Regions from separate parts of the Homo sapiens genome. Here region 2 is linked to region 1. The links come from fine-mapping of genetic effects on gene expression. A gene starts in region 1. The other region holds a variant in brackets. All regions are shown on one strand. Distances are from middle to middle. Region 1 holds the start of TRIM14 (tripartite motif containing 14). Region 2 overlaps TRIM14 (tripartite motif containing 14).

Region 1 (2,910 bases):
CTTTGCCCTCTCCAGTTTTCAGTCATGGCTGCGGGAATGGGGAGGGCCAGGATAGGGAAAGCATAGGCTGTTCTGGAAGGAGAAGGAGGGAAGGCTTCCTGGAGGAAAAGATAGTAAGGTAGAAACCTGCAGAGTAAGTTGGAATACTCAGGGCAAAGGGCATTTGGGAAGAAGAATGTTCCAAGCAGGGTAAACTGCACGTCCCCCAGTCTTGAAAAAGCACAGGGTGGAGCATAGGCAGGGCGGAGACCAAGGATCTTAAGAAAGAGCTGAGGGCTTTATAAGTGGAAGTCTAGACTTGAGCCTGGGGGGGCAACTGGAATTTGGGGTGGTGGTGTGTGTGTGAAAGTTGTCAGTACCAAAACAGAGTCACTTACATCAAAACCAAACTAAATGGTGCTCCTGTAGTCCCAGCTACTCCAGAGATGAGGTGGGAAGATCACTTGAGCCCAGGAGTTAGAGGCTGCAGTGAGCTATGATCGCACTATTGCACTCCAGCCTGGGCAACAGAGCGAGATCCTGTCTCAAACAAACTAAATGGTGCTGGGAGGCCATGAAGTGGGGGGCCCTCATCAACGATTTGCCTGGTAACAGGAACTATTATTGCAAAAGATTCCACCAAACTGCAACCTTGCACAAAGAACCACAACCTTGCACAAAAGCCATGATATGAGGACATCTGCCCAGCAACTGCCTGTTCAACTTTTGGACTGAAGCCACCTGTATTAATTCTTGTAACCAAGTATTATTATTTTAAAACGATCTGGCCGGGCGCGGTGGATCACGCCTGTAATCCCAGCACTTTGGGAGGCCGAGGCGGGCAGATCACGGGGTCAGGAGATCGAGACCATCCTGGCTAAAACAGTGAAACCCCTTTTCTACTAAAAATACAAAAAATTAGCCGGGCGTGGTGGCGGGCGCCTGTAGTTCCAGCTACTCGGGAGGCTGAAGCAGGAGAATGGCGTGAACCCGGGAGGCGGAGCTTGCAGTGAGCAGAGATGGCGCCACTGCACTCCAGCCTGGGCGACAGACCGAGACTCCGTCTCCAAAAAAAAAAAAAAAAAAAAAAAACAAAAACAAACAAACAAACAAAAAAAACAGTATATGCAATCCTCCTCGTTTTGCCTTTAAAAGCCTCTGCTTTCCTTTGCCTCCCTGAGTACTCCGCGTCCCCACCCCTTGGGTGCCATGGCACATTTATTCCCGAATTGCAATCCTTCTGCTCAGTCCGAAATAAACTCAATTGGAGAATCTCTGTGTCCTTATTTGAGGTTGATGAAGGTATCTTACAGTTGTGGGAATGATTATCTTTCCGGGGAAAAGGGCAAGAGAGGATCAAGGGAAAGTGAGAGGAGCACCCCCGGAAGGTCACAGCCAACTTTGGTCCCATCATCAGGGCTGCAGTTTTCTGGGCGTTACTGGAACAGCGTCATTAAGCAGGAAGCCCACCCTCTCCTAGCTGGCTCATTAGGAGCTTCCCATTTCTGGTGGGACCACCTCCCGGCCTGGGCGGGCAGAGGGAGCACCCTGCTGGTCGGAGGATGCTCCGAGGCCCGACGCTGCTCCCGGCGGGCTGTCATCCTCCTAGGGGTCGGCCGGCCGGCCTGGAGCCGCCCCGCCCACGGCCGAGGTTTCGGTTTCCCTTGGGAGCCCCGCCCTGTGTCCCGGGGAGCCGGAGGAGGTGGAGATGAATGGCGGGCGCGGCGACCGGGAGCCGGACCCCTGGGAGGTCGGAGCTTGTCGAGGGATGCGGCTGGCGCTGCCCGGAGCATGGCGACCGCGTGGCTGAGCTCTTCTGTCGCCGCTGCCGCCGCTGCGTGTGCGCGCTTTGCCCGGTGCTGGGCGCGCACCGTGGCCACCCTGTGGGCCTGGCGCTGGAGGCAGCGGTGCACGTGCAGGTGGGGACGATGGGGACGGGGTTCGCCGCGCGGGAGTTGGGGGAGCCAGCCCAGGCATAACGGCCGAGGAGGGGGCGTGCCTGGCCGTGGCCAGTGGCGGGTTACAACCTGGAAACCAAAGGTGCCCCAGAGGGCGTCTAAGCGGTCGACCGAAAGTTCAGAGCGGGAGCCTGAGACCCAAGGAAGGGCAAAGGCGAGCCAAAGCCATCAGTTGAGCTTCAGAAAAGGTGGGTTTAGGAGTGAGAGGTTGGGAGCCCAGGCTGGTACCCAGATGTCCTTGACCGTGTCCACCATGGCCGATCCGCCACACTGCCATTGGGCTGGAAGACAGTCTGCCTTTTAGTTAACAGAGGTACAAACTCTCCCTCTTAATAAACAGCCCTGTGTAGCTCAGAAAGCCACACAGACATCTCAGGTTTACTTAATCTGCAGTCCACAGAAAGGGCCTGTGAACTTTGAGCTGAGGACGGCCTGACTGCCCTGGGAGCAGCCTCAGCTGTCACTACCTACCTCCTCTCCCCTCCCCGGCCACACAGACACTCCCATTCCTGCTCATAGCAGCCCTGGGTGAGCCATTATTATTACAGCCATTTTATAGGCCACAAGAGGAAGGCTCTGGAGGCAGGGGCAGGCCTTGAACCCAGGACTCCATTAGCCAGATGCCCCCAACAGGGCCATTGTCACCGTGGAACCCTTACCCATGCATAATCCTAACAGTGCCCCAGGGGCTCTGGGCTCCTGCTCCAGCTTCCCAGCTGACTTTTTCTGTGGCTTCTCTCAAATCCTTCTCTCTCTCTGGGTTTCATGAAGCCTGGGTGAGGTAGGCCCTCATGTCTGACAGCTGTTGATCCTACCACTTGTCTCCAAGAAGTCTTCTGTGATGAATTCAGCCCCATCGTGAGCCTTTCTCCGGTACTGCATGACTCCAGACCACCACACTGTGACAACCTTGGAACTCCAAGGTGAAAAGGGGATCATGGGGGACAATCCAGTGGAGTCGTGGGCTCAAGAC
Region 2 (2,910 bases), 28 kb after region 1:
AAATTAAATTTAAAGGAGTTTAAATGAGCAATGAACGATTCATGAATCCGGCAGCCCTCTGAGCCACAGTGCACTCAGAGACTCCAGCACAGCCACGTGGTGGAAGAAGATTTAGGGACAGAAAAAGGAAAGCGACGTACAGAAAACAGAAGTGAGGTACAGAAGCAGCTGGATTGGTTACAGCTCGGCGTTCGCCTAATTTGAACACAATTTGAACAGTTGGCTACATCTGATTGGCCAAAACTTGGTGATTGGCACAAGTGCAGGCTACGGTCTGTTTACACCTCCACTTGTTATTGTTCATGACGTACAGAAAAATATGTAGGCCGAACTTAAAAGATGTAAGGAGGAGCTTTAGGCAAAACTTGATTTAAACAGCCTGCAGGTGGGCTTCCCACAGATCTCTACAGGCCCCTGTGATGAGTGCTGGGAGTGATGGGGGCGGAAGGCACTTCTGCGGAGGTGCTGAGTGAGCTGCGGCCCCAATAGCTGGGAAGGAGGCAACCTGGGCAAGGGGGGAAGGGTGTGGGGGGGCTGTCCAGGCAGAGGGCACAGCAAGTGCCAAGGGCCCTGGGTGCCCCTGCTGTGCCCGCTTGTTGGGATAGACTCCCCTCCTTCTTTCTTTCTGAGCACTCAGACCTTCCTGAGGACTCAGCTCTACTTTCTTGTTTTCCATCTTTACCCTGGAATCTGCACATCTTCCCTGAGTCGCCGCCCATCCTTGAGTGTTGGATCCAGTAGTTGTTCGCGCCTCAGCTCCTCCTCCTATTTAGGACTCTCCCACACCAGCCTTGTCATCCTGGGGTTTTCCTGTCCCTGTGAATTCACATAAATCCCTTAAATCTGCCTGGCTCTTGGGCGAGATTATGCGAATCTCCAGTTGTGTGGTATTTTTAGCACGTCTTATTTGTCTGCTTGCATAAGCTCCGGGCGCTCATTTCTCAACAATTCCTTACAGGCATAAACTGCCAGCTCTCAGACCCTTCCAGCACCAAGCCAGGTACCTTGTTGAAAACCAGCCCCTCACCAGAGCGATCGCTATTGCTGAAATGTAAGACCCCCGGGAGTGGGGATAGGGTGGAGACGGTGGAGATGGTGGGATGTTGGGTGGAGGAGGATCATGGAAATGGAGGTCCCTCTTTTTTTCTCATTAGAATTTATTTATTTATTTATTT[T/ATTTATTTT]AAGAACTTGTTTTTTAAAAAATGTTTATTATTAAAGGCAATAAAACAATACATGTTCATTGTAGAAAAATTAGAAAATGAAAGAAAAAAGTTACTCATAATCCCTCTTCTGTGAATAACTGCTATTATTATTTGTCCTTTTAGCTTTTTTAGCACATCTAATATGCATATAATGATATATTTAATATATCTTTTTATGTTACAAACGTGGTGTCATACTATACATACTGTTTTGTCATCTGTTTTCATTTACTGATATATTATGAACATATATATATTTGGGATTTATACAGTGAGCCACTGTGCCCAGCTAATATTATCACTATGTGTGTGTGTGTGTGTGACCGAGTCTTGCTCTGGAGTGCAGTGGTGCAGTCATGGCTCACTGCAGCCTCGACCTCTTGGGCACAAATGATTTTCCCACCTCAGCCTCCCTCATAGCTGGGACTATCAGTGTGTGCCACCATGCCCAGCTAATTTTTTATTTTTATCATTGTTTTTAGAGGTTGCATGGCATTGCATTGAATGGATGTGTCATATTTAGCCAATCTCATAATGTTGGATGTTTACATTTTCATTTCTAAAACAATGCTGTAATAAACATCCATTCTTGTACACATTTGTTGAATTGAATTAATGAATGAGAGAATGAACACACCATACCTCATTTTCAGATTATTTTTTAGGAGTAATTTCTCAAGTGGAATTACTGGGTGTCAACCTAAAAAAGACTCAATCTAAAGAAGGCTCAGTATCCAGTTAGCAGAGTTTATTCAAGTGCAAAGTAACCATCAGGAGACAGAGGGAAACCAAAGAATGGTGATCACTGCCCCTGGTGTTGGGAGGGGGACAGTGAATATCAAAACAGAGGCACTGAATAAATTTACATTTTCCATACAAAGGCTAACATACTGATTTAAAGGCCGAGCACGGTGGCTCACACCTGTAATCCCAGCACTTTGGGAACCCAAGGCAGGTGGATCACTTGAGGTCAGCAGTTCGAGACCAGCCTGCACAACATGGTGAAACCCTGTCTCCACTAAAAATACAAAAATTAGCTGGGCATGGTGGCATGCACCAGTAGTCCTAGCTGCTCAGGAGACTGAGGCAGGAGAATCGCTTGAACCCGGGAGGCGAAGGTTGCAGTGAGCCGAGGTCGCACTACTGCACTCCAGCCTGGCAACAGAGCAAGACTCCGTCTTAAAAAAAAAAAAAAAAAAAAAAGTGCACAAATCAAAAATGTGCAGATCAATCAGCTCAATGATTTTTTAAAAAGGAAACATATTTTGTAACCACCTTCAGATCAAGAAATGGAAATTTCCACTCCCCAGAAGTCTTCCTCATGTGCCTTCTTGTTTACTATCCCCAAAGGGGATCCACTCTCCAGACTTCTAGGACTATAGGTTAGTTTTACCTGTTTTTGAACTTTCAGTAGATCATTCACACTATACCCTTCTGTGTTTTGCTTCTTTCACTCAATATGAGATTTATCCATTTTTGTATATTGACATACTGAGTGGCTGTTATAAATTCACTTAGTACTTCTAAGCTATCTACAGATTATTTGGGTTTTTGTGTAAATAAGCATGTCACCTATGAATAATAATCTTTCATTTCCCCGATCTTTATTCTTTCCTTTCACTTCTTTTTCGTGCCTTGAGTTACTGTCTACTACATTTAGAACATTGTTGAATAGAAGTGGTTATAATGAGCAGCATTTTCTCCCACCTTAGAC

The links.
Region 2: its variant is fine-mapped to the expression of TRIM14 in whole blood (INTERVAL, PIP above 0.99).

What each region holds. Positions count from the first base shown.
Region 1 is chr9:98,117,970-98,120,879 of GRCh38, reverse strand. It overlaps TRIM14 (tripartite motif containing 14), which reads left to right and starts at 1,658. Exons shown (of 6, transcript NM_014788.4): 1 at 1,658-1,898. The coding sequence starts at 1,692. RefSeq lists a silencer at 1,725-1,824 and an enhancer at 2,135-2,184.
Region 2 is chr9:98,090,050-98,092,959 of GRCh38, reverse strand. It overlaps TRIM14 (tripartite motif containing 14), which reads left to right. Exons shown (of 6, transcript NM_014788.4): 5 at 959-1,051. Among named protein-coding and RNA genes, the nearest start is that of TRIM14, 28 kb to the left of the region's middle. RefSeq lists an enhancer at 1,749-2,308. The variant T/ATTTATTTT (reference allele first, on the strand shown) is at 1,176.